5 linked regions of the Homo sapiens genome follow. The protein of the gene in region 1 purifies or fractionates together with the protein of each later gene. This does not show direct contact. Each region holds a gene or a part of one and is shown on either strand. Other genes may lie near its edges. The genes, in order: MYO5B, RAB3B, SYTL4, EXOC6 and NPC1L1.

Region 1 (4,554 bases):
AGTCAGGATGCCAATCAGCCTCCCCTGCCTGCCCCCAGCTCGACCCCGAGCAGAAGAAACTACTGCAGGGTTCCTTCCTCACGGACACTGGGCTGATGAGGCACTACAGCAGCAGGAGTGTGTCAGCCAAGACAGGCTGAAGACAGCCTGCCCTCTGACCCTACCCTCGGTTGTTAGGTTTTGAGCCCAGGCCTGGTTCAAGTCCAGTGCCCTCTCCAGAAAGGAATTTCCTTAGAGAAGTGACAATAATCGCCACAAAGTCTTGTGTTTGGAGGCCAAACAGAGAGCTAGACTAGGGAATCAGATGCATTTCAGCAAACAGGTGACACATGGGCTGAGTGGGTCACTTTCTCCTTTGAGGCTTTGCTGAATGATTTCCAAGGTCTTTTTTAGCATTTCACACTGAGTCTCTAATTGAGCACTTGTTATAGGCCTGGCAGCAAACAAGACCCTTCAGAAGGGGAGGAAGTGTTAGACTGGCTTTATCTGGGAGGTGAGATGGGAAGGCAGAAAGGCAAGAGAGGAGAGGAAATGGCCACATTCCATGCATCCCGAGCAGAAAGGGTTGAGGAGATAAAGGAAACAGAGATTGGTCTGGGCCTGAGAAGGTTTAGTCATTCAGCAAACACTTACCCAGTGCCTACAGTGGGTCCAGGATGATGGAGACACAGCCCCTGGGATCTCCAAGCCTGGGGAGGTACAGAGGACAGGCAGCAATGTGAACACATGATGTAGAATGCTACTGGTGAAGTAGTTGAGGACTGCCCAGGCACAGTGAGGTAGAAGAGTGCTCAGATAAGGATCATAGAGGAAGTCAGACTCTGACTGAGTTTGAAGCTTGTGGGAAGCCTTTCGAGACCATAAGGAAAGAACTAACACTGCTTTTCTAGCCACAACGTCAAATGCCTAAGGCATTGCTACATTTGTTAGGGGTGAAGAGAGTTGGTTTCCCCTGGGTGTGTCCAGGTAGGGCCACAGAGGGAGAGGTTTGCATTTGCAGATGTCTCAGGGTTCTCTGCATCAGGGCGGTCAATACTCTCTCCCTGACACTGCCTGTTTCCTCTTGCTCCCCAGGCTGGCTGAGCACCTGCGGAGGATCAGAGCGGCTGTGGTGCTCCAGAAACATTACCGCATGCAGAGGGCCCGCCAGGCCTACCAGAGGGTCCGCAGAGCTGCCGTTGTTATCCAGGCCTTCACCCGGGCCATGTTTGTGCGGAGAACCTACCGCCAGGTGAGTAGCCACTCTGAGGGCCTCAGGGCTGCAGATTCAGAACTAAAGTGGCAACAGATGAATTACTGCCAACGTGAACCTCTGTCAAGCACTCCCAACTTTTTTCTAAATGCTTTCACATCTCTGCTCTCACCAAATCCTTTCTGAAGTCCCACAAGGTAGGAAGGGTGTGCATACTGTTGTCTTAGTCCATTAAATGTTGCTATAACAATATCTGAGGCTGGGTGATTTATGAAGAAAAGAGGTTTATTTGGCTCACAATTCTGGTGGCCAGAAAGTTCACAATTGAACATCTGCTTCTGGAGAGGGCCTCAGGCTGCTTCCACTCATGGTGGGAGGTGGAAGCCGGTGTGTGCAGAGGTCGCATGGTGAGAGAGGAAGCACAAGAGTGGCTCTTTTAACAAGCAGCTCTAATGAGAACTAACAGTGAGAAATCACCCTTGAAGAAGGGCATTTATTTGTTCATGAGGGATCTGCCTCTATGACTCAAACATCTCCTGTTAGACTCCATCTCCAACATAGGGGATCAGATTTCAACATGAGTTTTGAAGGGGCCCAGCATCCAATCATGGCAGTTTTCACACCCCTTCTGATACCTGAGTTGCTCAGAGAAGCCAGGTCACCTGCCTGAGGGCCCAGGCCAGCCAACAGCAGGGCCAGGTGACCCACCTAGGGCTCATTCACACTTGAGGGCAGGCGGTGGTATTGGGCATCATCAGGTCTAACTCCTCCACTTAACGGATCAGGAGCTTGAAGCCCAACATGGTGAGGTCAGGAGGGAGGCCCCGACCTCTTCCCTGCCAGGTTCTTGCTCTTTGTGTTGTTCCAGTGAAGCCAAAACCCTTGGGTTCAGGAGCCCCACATCAGGACACATCTGTTCAACCAGGTAACACCAACACATCTGAAGCACAGAGCTGACTTGAAACACGAATTGGAAGGAAATGTCTAAAATGGTTTTCTTTTTCATTAAATGAACATCTGTCTCTTCTATGATCACAGAAGGTGTGATTTTCTAAATAATAAAAGTAAAGCACGAAATTGATAATAATAAAAATGTGGTCAGGGTGGAGCACACCCTGGTGTAGTATGTAGAGAAACCCAGGCCATTGGGAGAAGGTTCTGTGAGTGTTCTTGGGTGATGGGTGGCGTTGGTGTGCTGCTCCCATGGAAGGGGCAGGTGATGTTTGGGAGTTTCTCAGCAGGGGCAGCATGTGCAAAGAGTGAGCACTGATGTGGCTCCCAGCTCTGTCACTCATGGCTGTGGCACTGTTCATTGCTCAGCCTGTTTGCTTGTTTACTCATTTATTCCACAAACATTTATTTTACCAGGTATTAGGGCGAGCACACTGATGATGCTTTCATATCCTGAGTGGTTTTTTAACTTGGTAGAAAAAAAAAAACAGTGAATTACACACCAAGTTTGTAATTATAAGCCATTAGCCTGCTGTGGACACTCACTGAAGTATCTCACTTCCAGCTCAGTGCCACCAGGAGGGGACCTCCACCTGGTAAATGGGTAGAGAGCAAGTGGATGATCATTAGGCCCCTACAACCTTGAGGTTTTCAGACTGTGGTTTCCTAACCCATAAAACAAAAAGTAAAACAAAGCTGAAAAGAGTTTGACAGCTGATTCCCTGTGGATATGTAGGCGCAGAACCTCGCTGAAATGTGTTATAAAACAACCACCAAAGCCTTAGATCTTAGGGGGCACATTGTCTGTGTAACTCCTAGAACCAAGGCTGCCCTGGCCTCTTCCCTCCACAGGCAGTGATGTATGCTTCCTTCACTCCTGTCCTGCAGTGCAAACCCACAAGATGTGTATCCTTGTTTCCCGCCAGGTCCTCATGGAGCACAAGGCCACCACCATCCAGAAGCACGTGCGGGGCTGGATGGCACGCAGGCACTTCCAGCGGCTGCGGGATGCAGCCATTGTCATCCAGTGTGCCTTCCGGATGCTCAAGGCCAGGCGGGAGCTGAAGGCCCTCAGGATTGAGGCCCGCTCAGCAGAGCATCTGAAACGTCTCAACGTGGGCATGGAGAACAAGGTGGTCCAGCTGCAGCGGAAGATCGATGAGCAGGTCAGTGTCTGCAGCTCCCTACCTGGGTGTCGGGGGCTTGGGTACTGGAGCATTTTGAGAGAGCCCACAGCTTCCTTGAGGAACTGCACATGCCGAAGACCCGAGGGAGCACAGACGTCCTCAGACCACAGCAGATACTAACTGTGGCAGGCAGATCAGTGACCCCTAAAGATACCCTCAGCCCTGGGATCTGTGAGTGTGTTACCTTATATGGCAAAAGGGACTTTGCAGATGCAATTAAATTAAGAACTGTAGGATGGGAAGAGTATCCTGGGTGAGCCAGGTGAGCTTGATATAACAGGGGTCCTCCTAAGAGGGAGGCTGGAGGATCAAGTTCAGAGAAGAAGTGATGACAGAATCAGAGGTGGGAGGGATGCAGGCAGCCTTGAGAAGCCAGAGAAGACGAAGACATGGACTCTCCCCTAGAGCGTCCAGAAAGAATGCAGCCGTGCCAACCCCTTCAGACTCCTGACCTCCAGAGCTGTAAGATAATGATTTATGCTATCTTGAGTCATAACTTGGTGGTAACTTGTTGCAGCAGCAATAGGAAACTGACACACTAGCCCAAGGTGCTGGTGTTTTGCCCTTGCAGGGGTGACATAGGGTAATGCAGCAGCAGCTGGTGTGCATGGAGGGCTTGCTGTGTGGGGTATGGGGCTGGCGCTTTGACTGGAGTAGCTTGTCTAATATAGCGGCCCTCCTACGGCAAGTATTACCATCCCCCTTTTTGTACAATTGAAGACACTGGAAGGGCACATGGCATCCTAAAGTCACACAGGTGGCAGTGGCAGGGCCGAGGTTTGAACCCCAGCTGTCTGGCTCCAGAGCCCATGCTCTGCATCACTTTGCCCTTCTGTCTCTCTGTCTGCCTATCTGTCTGTCTGCCTCTTTTGGAAAGAGTGTTTGCTTTGGAAATCAGAATTCAGTTCTTCTGCTTAAAAGTTGAGTGGCTGATGTGACTACTCTGAACCTCTTTTCTTATCCATAAAATGGGGCTGACAGGGCTGAAAGAAGAATAAATGGTCTAATGCATATGCAGGGCCTGGTATGCAGTAGGAGAAACTTGAAAAATGGTTAGCACTCTTATTTTTAAGCTTTGTCCTCTTTCTACCCTGGCCACCTTCCCATGTCAGCCAATCAAAGGGGTAACAAGCCATTGATTAAATATCCCTGTAGGGGGTTGGGTACCGTACAACGTAGTACAAGAGATTCGAGACAAGCACAGAACACTCAGCTTTGTCTAAT
Region 2 (4,554 bases), on another chromosome or scaffold:
CAAGTAGGAAGACAGGGAATTACATTATTGAGCCCCTGCTATATTGCATATACAGTTGACCTTTGAACAGCATGGGTTTGAACTGTGTAGGTTCACTTATACCTGAATTTTTTTTTTCAACCAAACACTGATTAAAAAAAATACCATGGTGGGTCAAGCGCAGTGGCTCAAACCTGGAATCCCAGCTATTTGGGAGGCTGAGGTAGGAGGATCGCTTGAGCCCAGGAACCTGAAGCTACAGTGAGTTATGATCAGGCCACTGTACTCCATCCTGGGAAACAGAGTGACACCCATCTCTTAAAAAAGAAGAAAAAGAGAAGAAAATACAGTAGTGAAGGGAGGTGAAGTCTGTATATTCAGAGGACCAACTTTTAGTCTAGGTGGGTTCCACTGGGCCAACTGTGGTTCTTGAGTAGGCGTGGATTTCGGTATATATGGGGGTCCTGGAGCCAATCCCTTGCCTATACCAAGAAATTACTGTACTATTCTAGATGTATAACCCACATTACCTATAATTTTCCCAACAACACTTGTTTTATGAATGAGGAAACTGTCTTAATCATGTAACATTTCTTGCCAAGGTCTCATAGGTAATAAATGATAGACCTGGAAACTGAATCTAGTTTGTTTGATTTGGAGCTCCAAACTATTTCCACTACACAGGATGACTTGCTAGAAGAAACCATGAAGCACAGAGACAAACAAACAAACAAAATAAGGGGTTAATAAAACACCCTCCCATATACAGGTTTTAATTCTTGCAACAGTTTTGCCAGGAAGCCATTTTATGAGCTCCTTTTATAGATAAGGAAACTGAGGCCAGGGGTGTGATTTGCCTAAGTTTACAGGATCACTGAAAGAGCCAGGGCTTATCTTTCAAATGCCAGGTCTCTTGGACTCAGTCTCATGTTCTTTGCAACAAAAGGTAAGTTCCTTCATTCACTTCTTCACTCCATTTATTGAGCTGATCTCTTCTCGCTGGATTTTAGGGCTCTCTCCTCCTCCTCCCCGCTCTTTCCTGGCTGAAGTTGGCTTCTTCCTTAGGTGCTTATTTCTGCCGCCTATCAGACTGAAAGGGTTGTTTTTCACAGCCACCCTTTGAGGAGTCATTTCTTTCCCCCAGCCTGGGACAGGGACGACTTCCCAGATGGTCCCTGGGCCTTCATCTGTATTGCTTGTCACGGAGATAGCTCTATCATTTTATGTGACTGTCACAAAATAGAGGAAAGATTTGATTGATGCTTATCTTACAAATGCAATTCTGCATGCACCACTGTGCATGACCTGTCTGCTTAGATCTGCCTCAGGCAGCTGCCTGCTGGGATGCTTTTTGCCTGTCTTCCAAATGTCTGAGTAGCCCCTGGCCGCCCCCTCCTAAGAAGATCCCCTTGGGGGCTTCCATCTGAATGAGCCTTCCAACTGAACTCAGCTCTCTGCCTCTCCCCGTTCTCACACCACCTACTGGGAAAGCCATGCTGTGTGTGCATAAGCAGATGTTAACAGTGTGGTATGGCAAGTACAGTACGGTAGCAGGACACTCAGGATGTTGGGTATGCTTCTTTTTTTTAATTTTTATTTTTAGAGATAGGGTCTCACTCTGTCACCCAGGTTGGGATACAGTGGTGCAATCATAGCTCACTCTAACCTCGAACCTCTGGACTCAAGTGATTTTCCAGCCTCAGCCTCCCAAGTACCGAGGACTACAGGTGCACACCACCACATCCGACTAATTTAAACTTTTTTTGGCTGGGCGCGGTGGCTCACGCCTGTAATCCCAGCACTTTGGGAGGCCGAGGCAGGCGGATCACAAGGTCAGGAGACCGAGACCATCCTGGCTAACACGGTGAAACCCCATCTCTAGTAAAAATACAAAAAATTAGCCGGGTATGGTGGCGGGTGTCTGTAGTCCCAGCTACTCGGGAGGCTGAGGCAGGAGAATGGCGTGAACCCGGGAGGCGGAGCTTGCAGTGAGCTGAGATCGCGCCACTGCCCTCCAGCCTGGGCGACAGAGTGAGACTCTGCCTCAAAAAAAAAAAAAAAAAAAAAATTCGTAGAAATGGAATCTCACTATGTTTCCCAGGCTGGTTTTGAACTCCTGGCCTCAAGTGATTTTCCCATTTTGGCATCCCAAAGTGTTGGGATTACAGGCATGAGCCACCATGCCCAGCCAGGATGCTTCTTTATTCACCCTAAAATTGTTGTGGTTTTCGTTTTCCTTAATCCCGTCAAACCTGGAAGCCATTAGGTAACAGAAGTTCCATTCATGACCCTCCAACTGACTTGCTGTGTGAGCTTGGACAAATCACTTGTCTTTGCAGAGCCTCAATTTTTTTTTTTTTTTTTTACCTGTAAGATAAACGGAGGTAGATCAGGAACTGAAACAATTTTTTACTCTTGCCATCACTTCCTAGTCTCCTATCTGTGGCAGTCACAGCTAATAAAGGCAGGCAAATTTCTCACTGATTCTACACGAGGCTACATGTATTTTTCTCAGCACAGTGTATGAAACATACTTATATACGTTCTCTTATTTAAAATTCACAGCACCTCGTGAAGTAAGTATTATTGTCAGATGAGGACACTGAGGCATAGAATTTAAGTAACTAGGCCAAGTTTACACACTGAGTTACTGGGAAAGCTGGGCCCAGTAGCCAGGCTTTTTGTTACAATAAAAAGCTGCTACTCCAAAGTCCCCTCTAATTCTAGCAGTTTAAGAGTGTGAAGCTGGGCTACATCAGAAAAGTGAAAACCAGTAATCTGACATTTACACTGATAGTCTGGCACTTGAAAAATGCTCTATATGTGTTTCTTGAAAGACATAACACCCTCTAAGGATTTACTGTAGGTCTAGCGTTGACCAGATGTAAGGATGGATAAAGCCCCCTTGAATCCAGAAGAGAGAGCAAACAGTTAATTGTAAAACAGGCCCAAATAATGGAGCCACAATCAGGGAGAGGGCAGTTGAACAAGATTTGCCTGCAGAAGTGAATTAAAGGGGCCAGTGAAATAATATGTATTCAGTACCTCCATGGGCCGAGAAACTGTGTCAGATTGTTTACGTATAGTACTACTCTTTCTATTTGTACCAAGCTCTGTGAAGTAGGTGGTATTTTCTCTATTTTAAGGTAAAAGTGCTGTGGCTTAGAGAGGCAATATGACTTACCTAAGAATTCATCTGAGGGTAGAGCATTGATTTTAAACTTTTTCATAACACTGCAGGGTACTAAGTCTAGTCTCGGCTGTTAGCTATGAGATTTGGGCAAATCCTTTTAATTTCTCATTTTCAGTTTCCTTCTTGATCAAATGGAAATAATAATCCACGTCTTTCCAGCTTTATTTCCCAGGTTTATTTAGAGATAAAAGAAGATAAAGGATATGAAATTGTGGTAAAGATCACATTTATGTTTTAGTAGTGACTCTTTGACCAGCAATTCCACTTCAAGGAATCTCTCTCAAGGAAGTAATTAGGAAAATGTACAAAAATTTATGTAAAGAAATGTTCACTGCAGTTTCATGTATAATAATTAAGAGTAGAAAAACAACTTAAAAACAACTTCCTAAAGAGAGTGACAACATTAAATAATTGATCTGGCTGGGCCAACATGGTGAAACCCCATCTCTATTAAAAATACAAAAATTAGCCGGTGTGATGGTGAGCACCTGTAGTCCCAGCTACTTGGGAGGCTGAGGCAGGAGAATCGCTTGAACCCAGGAGTTGGAGGTTGCAGTGAGCCAAGATTGTGCCATTGCACTCCAGCCAGGGTGACAGAGCAAGACTCTGTCTCAAAAAAAAAAAAAAAAAAAAAGAATTGGTCTTATGACACATCTATAGGATGGAATATAATGTAGTCAACTGAAATGATGTTTTTTTAGAGTTTTCAAAGTCTCGTTCATGCTTTTTTTTTTTTTTTTTTTTTTTTTTTTTTTTTTAATTAGAGAGTCTCCACTGTTGCCTGGGCTGGAGTGCAGTGGCACAATCTCCGCTCACTGTAACCTCCGCCTGCCAGGTTCAAGTGATTCTCCTGCCTCAGCCTCCAGAGTAGCTGGGATTACAGGCAGCCACCACCACGCCCAGCGAATTTTTTGTATTTTTAGTAGAGATGGGGTTTCACCATGTTGGCCAGACTGGTCTCGAACTCCTGACCTCGTGATTCACCCGCCTCAGCCTCCCAAAGTGCTGGGATTACAGGCATGAGCCACCGCGCCCAGCCCTTACTTTCTTTTCTTTTTTTTTGAGACAGTGTCTTGCTCTGTCACCCAGACTGGAGTGTAGTTGTGCAATCTTGACTCACTGCAGCCTCCGCCTCCTGGGTTCAAGCAATTTTTGTGCTTCAGCCTCCTGACTAGCTGGAATTACAGGTGTGCGCCACCACACCTGGCTAATTTTTATATTTTTAGTAGAGACTGGATTTCACCATGTTGGCCAGGCTGATCTTAAACTCCTGAGCTCAAATGATCCGCCTGCCTCGGCCTCACAAAGTCCTGGGATTATGGGCCTGAGCCACGGCACCTGGCCTCAAAATCTCATATTTTTGTAGTACTTTTGGTACTACT
Region 3 (4,554 bases), on another chromosome or scaffold:
CTCCACCTTTGATATCACTGATTCAACACCCCCTCTCTGACCACAACCTGCTGTGCTTCTAGCCTATTCAGCCAATGAGCCCCCCAACTAGCCCCATTCCTGTTCTCAGATTTCTTGGATGGGGGCAGTCTTCCATAGACCCTTCTGCTTTCACCTCCTCAGCTCCTTCCCATCTTTACTTCCTTCCCAATAACATTTAAATTTTATTGTTTCTTTCTCTTTTTTTTTTCTGAGACTTTTTCTCTATTGCTCTGGCTGGAGTGCAGTGGCATGATCTTGGCTCACTGCAACCACTGCCTCCTGGATTCAAGCGATTCTCCTGCCTCAGCCTCCCAAGTAGCTGGGATTACAGGTGTGCGCCACCATGCCCGGCTAATTTTTGTATTTTTAGTAGAGATGGGGTTTCACCATGTTGGCCAGACTGGTCTCGAGCTCCTAACCTCAGGTGATCCACCCGCCTCAGCCTCCCAAAGTGCTGGGATTACTGGTGTGAGCCACCGCACCCAGCCAATTCTATTGTTTCAACTGCACTCTTGTCAATATCCTCAATAATGCATAATTTCACTGCAAATATCTGATTTAAAAAACCATAGCTCTTCTAAGCCCAACTGTTATACTTTATGCATGCACAAGGACTCCTGAGATCTACTGGAGAAAAAAAAATCACACTCTGGTAGATTATTATCCATATGAATTCTTGGTCACCAAGCTCATCTTAACCCTGCCTGGCACTGCAACTATGCTTCCCTAGGCTGCTCTCCTGTTCTCCACAATAACTATTTCAAACCTTCTTCAAATACCACAAATATCTAACTCAAACCTTGTCCCATCTTAACCCCTGCTCTAAGAGGTTGGCCTTAACTATTATATCATAGAGAAATAGAAATACCATCAGACAAGTTCCTGCCGCCAAATCTATGAACCTACTTTCATCTATGCCTATTGAGGATAATCCTCTACCTCAATCTGGATCCCCTCCCATCTGGCATAAGGACTTTGCCTTCCAAGGATTTTGCTCTATTAATTAGTCCCTCCTTCCCACCAGCCTTTAAAGGAACTCAAGTCCTTCCTAAATAAATAAATAAATAAATAAATAACAGGTCCTCAATCTCAACTCCTTCCTTGCTACTACCCTTTCTCTGCTCTTCAAAGCCAGACAGATTTCTCTAAGGAATTGTACATAATCACTGCCTTCACTTCCTCATCTCTCCAATCATTTCTCAACCCACCATAGTTTAGCTTTCTGCCTCACAGTTCTCTGAAATTGCTCTAAGGTCACCAAGAACTTCCTAAATCCAATAGACAGTTCTTGGTCTTCCTAGATTTCTCTGGATCTTTAGTACCACTGACCATATTTTTAACATAGCCATTTCATTTTGAGAAACTTATTCTGCTGATATTCAAGTAAATTCACAAATATATATTCTGAGGATGCTCAATATTTGAAACAGCAAAAAAAAAAAAATTAAAGAACATAAACATCCATCAAAGGAAACTGACTAGTTATTGTACACACATATTAGGGAATATTGTGCCTTTGTTAAAAAGAAGAAGGTACGGTCTCCCTCTGATGCAGAGGTGAAGCTGGACTGTACTGCTGCCATCTCGGCTCACTGCAACCTCCCTGCCTGATTCTCCTGCCTCAGCCTGCCGAGTGCCTGCGATCGCAGGCGCGCGCCGCCACGCCTGACTGGTTTTCGTATTTTTTTGGTGGAGATGGGATTTCGCTGTGTTGGCCGGGCTGGTCTCCAGCTCCTAACCACGAGTGATCCGCCAGCCTTGGCTTCCCGAGGTGCTGGGATTGCAGACGGAGTGTCGTTCACTCAGTGCTCAATAGTGCCCAGGCTGGAGTGCAGTAGCGTGATCTCGGCTCACTACAACCTCCACCTCCCAGCCGCCTCCCTTGGCCTCCCAAAGTGCCGAGATTGCAGCCTCTGCCCGGCCGCCACCCCATCTGGGAAGTGAGGAGTGTCTCTGCCTGGCCGCCATCCCATCTAGGAAGTGAGGAGCGCCTCATCCCGGCCGCCATCCCATCTAGGCAGTGAGGAGCGTCTCTGCCCGGCCGCCCATCGTCTGAGATGTGGGGAGCGCCTCTGCCCTGCCGCCCCGTCTGGGATGTGAGGAGCGTCTCTGCCCGGCCGCCCCGTCTGAGAAGTGAGGAGCCCCTCCGCCCGGCAGCCGCACCGTCTGAGAAGTGAGGAGTCCCTCCGCCCGGCAGCCACCCCGTCTGGGAAGTGAGGAGCGTCTCCGCCTGGCAGCCACCCCGTCCGGGAGGGAGGTGGGGGTCAGCCCCCGCCAGGCCAGCCACCCTGTCCGGGAGGGAGGTGGGGGGTCAGCCCCCGCCAGGCCAGCCGCCCCGTCAGGGAGGGAGGTGGGGGGGTCAGCCCCCCGCCCGGCCAGCCGCCCCGTCCGGGAGGGAGGTGGGGGGGGTCAGCCCCCCGCCCAGCCAGCCGCCCCGTCCGGGAGGTGAGGGGCGCCTCTGCCCGGCCGCCCCTGCTGGGAAGTGAGGAGCCCCTCTGCCCGGCCAGCCGCCCCGTCCGGGAGGGAGGTGGGGGGGGTCAGCCCCCCACACGGCCAGCCGCCCCGTCCGGGAGGGAGGTGGGGGGGTCATCAGCTCCCCCGCCCGGCCAGCCGCCCCGTCCAGGAGGGAGGTGGGGGGGGTCAGCGCCCCGCCCGGCCAGCCGCCCCATCCGGGAGGTGAGGGGCGCCTCTGCCCGGCCGCCCCTACTGGGAAGTGAGGAGCCCCTCTGCCCGGCCACCACCCCGTCTGGGAGGTGTACCCAACAGCTCATTGAGAACGGGCCATGATGACAATGGCGGTTTTGTGGAATAGAAAGGGGGGAAAGGTGGGGAAAAGATTGAGAAATCGGATGGTTGCCATGTCTGTGTAGAAAGAGGTAGACATGGGAGACTTTTCATTTTGTGCTGTACTAAGAAAAATTCTTCTTCCTTGGGATCCTGTTGATCTGTGACCTTGCCCCCAACCCTGTGCTCTCTGAAACATGTGCTGTGTCCACTCAGGGTTGAATGGATTAAGGGTGGTGCAAGAGGTGCTTTGTTAAACAGATGCTTGAAGGCAGCATGCTCGTTAAGAGTCATCACCACTCCCTAATCTCAAGTACCCAGGGACACAAACACTGCGGAAGGCCGCAGGGTCCTCTGGCCTAGGAAAACCAGAGGCCTCTGTTCACTTGTTTATCTGCTGACCTTCCCTCCACTATTGTCCTGTGACCCTGCCAAATCCCCCTCTGCGAGAAACACCCAAGAATGATCAATAAAAAGAAAAAAGAAAAAAAAAAAAAGAAGAAGGTACTGTAGTTCTATATATACTGACACTGAAAGCATATTAAATTAAAAAAATTGCAAATCATATATATTATGATTCCATTTTTATTTGTTTACATTTTAGACAGATTGGATCATGGATGAATGGAAAAATGTCTAGAAAGAAATACAATCTTAACATTGTTACCTCTGGAGAGTGGGATAAGCAGGAACAGAAGATTTATATGTTACCTTTTATTGAGTCAAGTAATAAAAATGTAGTCCCATCCCTAAGCACAGCAACACTTCTAGGTAAGAAAAAAATTTCACAGGAGATCAAAAGGGAATGGCCGTAGAGACTAGGGGAAAATATTTTAAGGTCACCAGGGCTAAGAGAGAAAGGAGAGAAGTGTAGCTAATGGTTTCAAACATGGAATGAGAGATCTATTAAAAACAAGAAGAGGTAAGTATCCAATAGACAGAGAGCGTGAATAGATAATTCTTAAAGGGGAAAAATCACATGGCCAATACACATCAAAAAGAAAAAGTTTCACTCTTACTGGCAATAAAGATTTTTTTATGTTTGCTTATTAATTCAGCAAAATTTCAGAAAGACAATTTTCAGTTTTTAAAAAGGATTTAAGAGATATTCTCATATTTTGTTGGCAAATGTAAATTAGTAAGGCCTGTTAAAAAGCAATGTGACAATCTGATTTCTAAGAAAACTGAACTTCACAGAACTTATCACAATTGTAATTAAAAAATTATGTGATACAATATTTAATATACACTTCCCCTGCCGAAATAAGTTCCAGGAGAAAAATGGCCATTGTCTACCTTCTTCTCAGCCATACCTCAAGCATCTAGCTGGGTTGATGGATGGATAGATGGATAAATCTACATTGTAGGATCCTGACTGTAGGCTCTCAGTTGGTGCAACGTAAATCCTCAGTAAATCAACACAGAGCATGGCACAACATAGGCCCTCAGTAAATCAAATCACGCTTTCTGATGAGTTTAAAGACACTGATACTAATGGTATTCTGATGCCTGAATCGATAGAGCTACAAACAAGAAGCAGTGTAGATGCCATGGAAATTTTCTACTTCTTAAAAATTACTCAAGGTCAAGTTAGGTTTAGATAGTCACAGATATGAATATGAAAGCCACAGTGGTCCATCATTTCAACTATTCTTCTGCCAGGGCCATCCAATCTCCAGCCCTCTCCCTATTTCTGTCACGGCCACCCGGAAAAAATTCCCCATACTAGATTGTCCACACTCTGTTCCT
Region 4 (4,554 bases), on another chromosome or scaffold:
TTCATGGGATAAATCCCATTTGATCATAGTGCATAAAGTATAATCCTTTTTATATGTTGTTGGATTCTGTTTGCTAGTATTTTGTTGAGGATTTTTGCATGTGTATTCATAAGATATTTTGATCTGTTTTTTGTGTGTGTGTGTGTGATGTCTTTGATATGAGAATGATACCTCATAGAATGAGTTGGTGCTCTCTCAATTGAGATGAGTATTTGGGTTTTTTCCCCCCTTTATTCTATTCATGTGGTACATTACATTGATTGATTTCCTCATGTTTAATTACCCTTGCATTCCTAGGATAAATCTCATTTGGCCATAGTGTATAATCCTCTTTAATATACTGTTGGATTTGGTTTGCTAGTATTTTATTGAGAATTTCTACATCTATATTCATGAGGGATTTCTGTAATTTTTTTAGAGACAAAATCTCACTGTGTTGCCCAGACTGATCTTGTACTTCTGGCCTCAAGCAGTCCTCCTACCTTAGCCTCCCGAGTAGCTGGAATTATAGGCATGAGCCACTGTGCCTGGCATGAAAATTTTTTTTTTTAATTTATGTTTGAGACAGGATCTTGCTACATTGCCCAGGCTGGTCTTGAACTCTGGAGCTCATGCAGTTCTCCCACCTCAGCCTCCTGAGTATCTGAAACTACAGGCATGTTCCACCATGCCCAGCTCTGTAATTTTCTTTTTTTGGTGATGTCTTTATCTGGCTTTGGTATCAGGGTAATGCTGGCCTTATAGAATGAGTTAGGAAGTGTTCGCTTCTCTTCCACATTTGGAAGAGCTTGTGAATGATTAATGTTAATTCTTTAAATATATGGTAAAATTTTCCAGTTAAGCCATGTGTATTTTCTTTGTTGGGAAGTTTTCGATTACTGATTCCATTTCATTACTTGTTAAAGGTATACTCAGATTTTCTAGTTTTCTTGAGTTAGTTTTGATAGTTTGTGTCTTTCTAGGAATTTGTTGTGTTTCATTTAGATTATTTTAGTTGTTGACATATAATTGCTCATAACTTTTTCTTATTTTTATTTCTGTAACATTCTCTCTTTTGTTCTTGAATTTAGTAATTTGAGTCTTTGTTTTTGCTTGGTCATTCTAGATAAAGGTTTGTCAATTTTGTTGATCTTTTCAAAGAACCAACTCTCTGTTTTATTGATTTTTTTCTCTATTGTTTTTGTTTTTTCTTTTTTTTGAGATGAAGTCTTGCTCTGTTGCCCAGGCTGGAGTGCAGTAGCGCGATCTTGGCTCACTGCAACCTCCGCCTCCTGGGTTCAAGCGATTCTCCTGTTTCAGCCTCTCGACTAGCTGGGATTACAGGCACATGCCACCATGCCTGGCTAATTTTTATATTTTTAGTAGAGATAGGGTTTGCCACGTTGGCCAGGCTGGTCTTGAACTCCTGACCTCAGGTGATCTGCCTGCCTTTGCCTCCAAAATTTCTGGGATTACAGGCATGAGCCACTGCACCTGGCCTCTCTATTGTTTTTCTGTTACATTTACATCTGATCTAATCTTTATTACTTTCTTTCTTCTGCTTGTTTTGGGTTGGGTTGCTCTCTTTTTTATTATGATGGAACCCAACCTTACGATGGAAGTTTGGGTTATTAATTTGAGATCTTTCTTATTTTTTAATATTGGTTTTTACAGCTATAAATTTTTCTCTAAGAACAGCATTAGCTTCATCTAAAACTTTTTGGCATGTGTGTTTTCATTTACCTTTCTTCAAAATATCTTTAGTTTTCCTTATTATTTCCTCTTTCACTGGTTATTTAGAAGTGTGCTTAATTTCAACATATTTGTGAATTTCTAAAATGTCCTTCTGTTATTAATTTCTAATTTAATCCCATTGCAGTCAGAGATAATAATTTGTATGACTTCAGTTTATTTTAAGTTTATTGAGGCTTATTTTATTGCCTAACATAGTCTGTACTGGAGAATGTTCCATGTTCCCTTGAGAAGACTGTGTATCCTACTGTTGTTGGAGGGAGTATTCTATAGAGGTCTGTTAGGTCTAATTAGCTTAGAGTATTGTTCACGTCTCCTATTCCCTTTTGGTCTTCTGCTTAGTTGTTCTATCCATTATTGAATGATGAGTAGTTTTTATGTCTTTTCAGGCTCTGTTGTTAGATGCATATATGTTTATACTTTATATATTCCTTATTGATTGACCATTTGCCGTCATAAAATATCCTTTATTTCTAGACTTGTTTTAAAGTCTGTTATGTCAGATATTAGTATAGCTGCTGCAGCTTTCTTATAGTTGCTCTTTTCATGATATATGTTTTTCTGTTTACTTTTAAATATGTCATTAAATCTAAAGTGTATCTCTTGTAGATAGCACATCATTGGATCTTATTTTTATCCAATTTGAGAACCTATGCCTTTTGATTGTTTATTCATATTTAATGTTATTATTTACATAGTTGGATTCACATCTGCTGTTTTTCTTGTGTTCTATGTCTCATTTCTTTCTTCCTTTTTTTTTTTGCTCCTCTATTCCTTTTTTACTGCTGCTTTTGCATTAAGCAAATATTTTCTGGTGTAATATTTTAATTAGTGATTTTTTGGGAATTTAGAAAAAAGTTAGTTCTTAGTGGTTGCTCTCAGAATCTACTTCAGAATTAGTCTAATTTCCAGTAAGGTATAGAAATGTTACTCTTATATAGCTATATTCCTTCTTTCCCTTTTTTTGTGTTATTACAATAATACATTACTATAATTGTTACTTTTTATAATTTTTTGTCTTTTAAAGAAGCAGAAAGAAGAACAGAGACCAATATGTATTTTTAAAGTTTGTTATATTAAGTTTCTTATTTACTGTTTCTGATTCTTTTCATTTGTTGCTGGGTTTTTAGTTGTCATCTTGTGTCATTTTCTTACTCCAGAATGGCTTTGCTCCCACATACATCCTTTGTGTTGTGATTGTCCATTGTATTACATATATTCTATATATATTTTATATGTTGCATGCCACCAATACAATTATGTACATGTAGTTTTATGCAACTGCTTCCACAAATCAGATAAGAAATGAGAAGTATGCATTTATACTGTATTTTATAATTACATAGTTACCTTTACTGGTGTTCTTTGTGTGTGTCTGTGTGTGTCTGGTCTGTGTGTCTGTGTGTGATCAAATGGTCATCTGAGTTCACTCTTAATCGTGAGGAAATTCCTTTTGTATTTCTTGTAAGGCTGGTCTGCTTGAAACTATTTCCTGTTTTTTTTGTTGTTGTTGTTTGTCTGTTTTTTTAAAATCTGGGCATGTCTTTATGTCATCTTCATTTTTGAAAGATAGTTTTACCATATGTAAGATTTTTAGTTGACGGGTTCCCCCCCTCCGCCGGCCAGCAGTTTGAATATGTCTTTCCACTGCCTCTGGGCTTCATTATTTCTGATGAGAAGTCAGCTGTTAATCTTATTGGAATTCCCTTATGTAATCAGCAGTTTCTTGTTGTTTTCAGGATTTTCCGTTTGTCTCTCATTATTTTACTATGATGTACCTGGATATGGATCTCTTTATGTTTATCTTACTTGGAGTTTGTTGATCTTCTTAGATATGTAGGTTAATGTTTTTCATCAAATTTTGGAAATTTTAAATTATTTCTTTAAATAGTCATTCTGTTCCTTTCTCTTCTCTACTTTGGTGCTCCCATCTCATGTATGCTGGTGTGCTTAATGATGTCCACATTTATTTGAGACTCTGTTCATTTTCCTTATTCTTTTTTCTCTCCTGTTCTTTTTTCTCTCTTACTGTTTTTTCTCTCTTGTTCTCTGATTGCATAATCAGACTGTCTTGTATATTCACTGATTCTTCCTTCTGCCAATTCACATCCACTGTTGGGACCCTCCAATGAATTTTTCATTTATGTTACTGACTTTTCAACTCTGGAATTTCCAATTATTAAAAAAAATAATTTCTACTTCTTTATCCATCTCTATTTGGTAAGACATTGTCATCATACTTTCCTTTGCTTCTTCTTTTTAGTTCTGTGAGCATAGTTATTATGGCTGCTTTGAAGTCTGCTACATCCAACATCTGGGCCATCTCATAAGCAGTTTCTATTGCCTATTTCTTTCTTTCGTTTTTTTTGAGACAGAGTCTTGCTCTGTCACCCAGGTTGGAGTGCAGTGGCACAATCTTGGCTCACTGCAACCTCCGCTGCCCAGGTTCAAGCAATTCTCCTGTCTCAGCCTCCCAAGTACCTGGACTACAGGCGCACACCGCCACACCCGGCTAATTTTTGTATTTTTAGTAGAGATGGGGTTTCACCATATTGGTCAGGCTGGTCTTGAACTCCTGACCTCAGGTGATCCACCTGCATCGGCCTCCCAGAGTGTTAGGATTACAGGCATGAGCCACAGCGCCTGGCCACTGTTGCGTGTTTTTCTGTTTATTGGTCTCAGTCTTCTGTTTCCTTATATGCCTCATAGTTTTTTTTTGTTATTATTGTTGAAAACTGGACGATTTAGATAACGTAGCAACTCTCGATGCTGATTCCTTCCACCCCATAACACTCATGGGGCAGGTTGTTGTTTGTGTGCTTG
Region 5 (3,702 bases), on another chromosome or scaffold:
ATTACAGGGGTGTGCCACCACGCCTGGCTAATTTTTGCATTTTTAGTAGAGACAGGGTTTCACCATGTTGGGCAGGCTGGTCTTGAACTCCTGACCTCAGGTGATCGACCTGCCTTAGCCTTCCAAAGTGCTGGGATTACAGGCATGAGCCACCACACCCGGCCAATAACCTTAATTTCTTAAAAGTCATTAAGAAATAACCTTTATCTGGCAGGAGCCCTAAGCCACAGCTCTAATAATCCAACCGTTCTCATTTTTCTGTCTTCCTTTCTAGTCCTTTCCTATAGGAATATGCAAATTAAAAACCAATTAAGTTAATTTTAAAAATCCAATGCATATCTTGAAACCATACAGAGAAGAATCTCGGTTCACTAGGGAGATCTCTGTAGGCTTCACTCATCAAAGGTCAGGCCTGGGTCTCCCACAGCAGTGGGGCCAGCTATGGAGTTTGCAGGGCTGGTGCAAAACAAAAATATGGGCCTCTTGCACAAAATTTACTAAGAATTTCAAATGGTGGTGGCAGAGCCCTGAACCCCGCTTGATCACATGCCTGTGCCACTGCGTCTGCGGTGTTCTGAAGTTGTCCTGGAAAGGGCTCTGACCTTTGCCCTTCCATCTTCTGTGTGCCATGGCTGTCCAGCCTCCAGGTTCATGGCCTATCACAAGCCCCTGAAAAACTCACAGGATTACACAGAAGCTCTGCGGGCAGCTCGAGAGCTGGCAGCCAACATCACTGCTGACCTGCGGAAAGTGCCTGGAACAGACCCGGCTTTTGAGGTCTTCCCCTACACGTGAGGACCTGAGTGGCTGGGCTGGAGGGAGGTGGGGTATGGTTGCTGGAGACTGGAGGTTAGGGTGGAGGGCTTGCAAGGAGTTGCATGAGATGAGGACCAGTTTTAGGTCAGGAGGCTCTGGCTGCAGCCTTGGGCCTATTTCTTAGGCTGGTTTGTACCCCAATATAAGCCTGCCTGACCCTCAGCATTCTCCTTCTGAAGTGGGGTGTCCCACCCACCATGAGGGCCCCAGAGGCCTGAGCCTGTGACCATGCTCTGTGCTCTGGCAGGATCACCAATGTGTTTTATGAGCAGTACCTGACCATCCTCCCTGAGGGGCTCTTCATGCTCAGCCTCTGCCTTGTGCCCACCTTCGCTGTCTCCTGCCTCCTGCTGGGCCTGGACCTGCGCTCCGGCCTCCTCAACCTGCTCTCCATTGTCATGATCCTCGTGGACACTGTCGGCTTCATGGCCCTGTGGGGCATCAGTTACAATGCTGTGTCCCTCATCAACCTGGTCTCGGTAACCCAGCAGACACAGGCACCAGGGGGCCTCTGGAGGGGTGGTTGGGGATCCAGCCTCATAGAATACTCCTAGTTCTTTTTTGTTTCTTTTTTTAGAGGCAGGGTCTTGCTCTGTTGCTCAGGCTTGAGGGCAGTGACATGATCACAGCTCACTGTAGCCTCGAACCCTTGGGCTCAAGCGATCCTCCTACCTCAGCCTCCAAAGTAGCCAGGACTACAGGCACGTGCCACTGCGTCCAGCTAATATTTTAATTTTTGTTGTAGAGACAGGGTCTCACTTTGTTGCCCAGGCTGGTCTCAAACTCCTGGGCTCAAGTGATCCTCTCACCTCGGCCTCCCAAAGTGTTGGGATTATAGGCATGAGCCACTGCACCCGGCCAAATACTCCCAGTTCTGTCTAGAATCTAGATGCCTGCCCCACGCTGGTCCTGGTGGAGGCCTCATCTCCCTAGTTCCTTCCCCACCTCTGCCTTTCTTGGCTTATGCCCCCTCTCTGCCCATAGGCGGTGGGCATGTCTGTGGAGTTTGTGTCCCACATTACCCGCTCCTTTGCCATCAGCACCAAGCCCACCTGGCTGGAGAGGGCCAAAGAGGCCACCATCTCTATGGGAAGTGCGGTGAGTGGAGAGGAGTGGGCCACCCTGTGCCCCACTCGACACCCTGTGCCCTGCCTGATGCCCTGTGCCCTGCCTGATGCCCTGTGCCCTGCCTGACACCTGGCTCTGAACCCCCCAGGTGTTTGCAGGTGTGGCCATGACCAACCTGCCTGGCATCCTTGTCCTGGGCCTCGCCAAGGCCCAGCTCATTCAGATCTTCTTCTTCCGCCTCAACCTCCTGATCACTCTGCTGGGCCTGCTGCATGGCTTGGTCTTCCTGCCCGTCATCCTCAGCTACGTGGGTGAGTGCCCAGGCCTGTTCCTACCAGACTGTCATGATTATGCTGACGACAACAGTAACAGTGCATGCTCACCACAAAAGCTCAGGAAGTGCAAACGAGCCATGGGCAGATGTCAGAAGCCAGGACTATGACCATGTGGCAATTCTGTCTTGGAAGCTACTATTATTCATTTAATGTGCTGTGAACATCTTTTTTTGTCAGCTATGTATGTCTCAAACAACGTTTCTGTGGCCCTGTACACTGTGGATCTTCACTGCACTGCTGTTGGACTTTTAAGCATGCCCTTCAGCAAGAAATATATTTTACACAGAGAGGTGACATGCACGGGCACACATAGACATGCCTGCCTAAAACAAATGCTTCACTAAATAATATTAATACTTCCTTTATACATGTGAAGCATTCTGATATTGCTGGTTCCATTCTATTATTATTATTAATATTTTTTGGAGACAGGGTCTTGCTCTGACACCCAGGCTGGAGTGCAGTAGCATGATCACAGCTCACTGCCACCTTGACTTCCCAGGCTCAAGTGATCCTCCCACCTCAGCCTCCCGAGTAGCTGGGACCACAGGTGCACACCACCATGCCCAGCTAATTTTTTATTTTTTGTAGAGATGGGGTCTCCCTATGTTGCCCAGGCTGGTCTCAAACTCCTGAGCTCAAGTGATCCACCATGGCCTTCCACAGTGCTAGGATTACAGGTGTGAGCCACTGCGCTTGGCTTTTATTTTACTTTAAATTTGTTATTTATTTTATTTTACTTTACATTATTTTATTTTTATTTTTTGAGATGGAGTCTCGCTCTGTTGCCCAGGCTGGAGTGCAGTGGTATGATCTCAGCTCCCTGCAACCTCTGCCTCCCAAGTTCAAGCCATTCTCCTGCTTTAGCCTCCCAAGTAGCTGGGATTACAGGTGCGCACCACCACGCCTGGCCAATTTATTTATTTATTTTTTATTTTTAGTAGAGACGGGGTTTCACCATGTTGGGCAGGCTGGTCTCGAACTCCTGACCTCAGGTGATCCAACCGCCAAGGCCTCCCAAAGTGCTGGGATTACAGGCGTGAGCCACTGTGCCCAGCCCTATCATTAATTTGTTTTTAATTATTTTAATTATTTTTATTTTTATTATTTTTAGACAGAGTCTCTCTCTGTTGCCCAGGCTGGAGTGCAGTGGCGCAATCTCAGCTCACTGCAACCTCTGCCTCCTGGGTTCAAGCGATTCTCCTGTCTCAGCCTCTCGAGTAGCTGGGATATCGGTGTATGCCACCATACCTGGCTAATTTTTGTATTTTTATTGGAGACAGGTTTCACCATGTTGGTCAGGCTGGTCTCGAACTCCTGTGGCCTCAGGTGATCCATCTGCCTTGGCCTCCCAAAGTGCAGGGATTACAGGCGTGGGCCACCGCACCCGGTCTCATTAATATTTTGAAATGCTGGCCAGGAGTGGTGGCTCATGTTTGTAATCCTAGCACTTTGGGAGGCTGAGGCACATGGAAGCTCAAAT

Evidence for each region.
Region 2: the proteins of MYO5B (region 1) and RAB3B purify together in Homo sapiens (affinity purification with western blotting, with the first as the bait; one study listed by BioGRID). This does not show direct contact.
Region 3: the proteins of MYO5B (region 1) and SYTL4 purify together in Homo sapiens (affinity purification with western blotting, with the first as the bait; one study listed by BioGRID). This does not show direct contact.
Region 4: the proteins of MYO5B (region 1) and EXOC6 purify together in Homo sapiens (affinity purification with western blotting, with the first as the bait; one study listed by BioGRID). This does not show direct contact.
Region 5: the proteins of MYO5B (region 1) and NPC1L1 purify together in Homo sapiens (co-immunoprecipitation; one study listed by IntAct). This does not show direct contact.

The regions. Positions count from the first base shown.
Region 1 is NC_000018.10:49,901,349-49,905,902, reverse strand, and holds part of MYO5B (unconventional myosin-Vb), read left to right. Parts: intron 1-1,074; coding exon 1,075-1,231; intron 1,232-3,069; coding exon 3,070-3,309; intron 3,310-4,554. UniProt on the Homo sapiens protein: May be involved in vesicular trafficking via its association with the CART complex. The CART complex is necessary for efficient transferrin receptor recycling but not for EGFR degradation.
Region 2 is NC_000001.11:51,983,640-51,988,193, reverse strand, and holds part of RAB3B (ras-related protein Rab-3B), read left to right. Parts: intron 1-4,554. UniProt on the Homo sapiens protein: The small GTPases Rab are key regulators of intracellular membrane trafficking, from the formation of transport vesicles to their fusion with membranes.
Region 3 is NC_000023.11:100,721,593-100,726,146, forward strand, and holds part of SYTL4 (synaptotagmin-like protein 4), read right to left. Parts: intron 1-4,554. UniProt on the Homo sapiens protein: Modulates exocytosis of dense-core granules and secretion of hormones in the pancreas and the pituitary. Interacts with vesicles containing negatively charged phospholipids in a Ca(2+)-independent manner.
Region 4 is NC_000010.11:92,854,685-92,859,238, forward strand, and holds part of EXOC6 (exocyst complex component 6), read left to right. Parts: intron 1-4,554. UniProt on the Homo sapiens protein: Component of the exocyst complex involved in the docking of exocytic vesicles with fusion sites on the plasma membrane.
Region 5 is NC_000007.14:44,514,296-44,517,997, reverse strand, and holds part of NPC1L1 (NPC1-like intracellular cholesterol transporter 1 isoform 2 precursor), read left to right. Parts: intron 1-640; coding exon 641-791; intron 792-1,063; coding exon 1,064-1,295; intron 1,296-1,800; coding exon 1,801-1,914; intron 1,915-2,032; coding exon 2,033-2,195; intron 2,196-3,702. UniProt on the Homo sapiens protein: Plays a major role in cholesterol homeostasis. Critical for the uptake of cholesterol across the plasma membrane of the intestinal enterocyte. Involved in plant sterol absorption, it transports sitosterol, although at lower rates than cholesterol.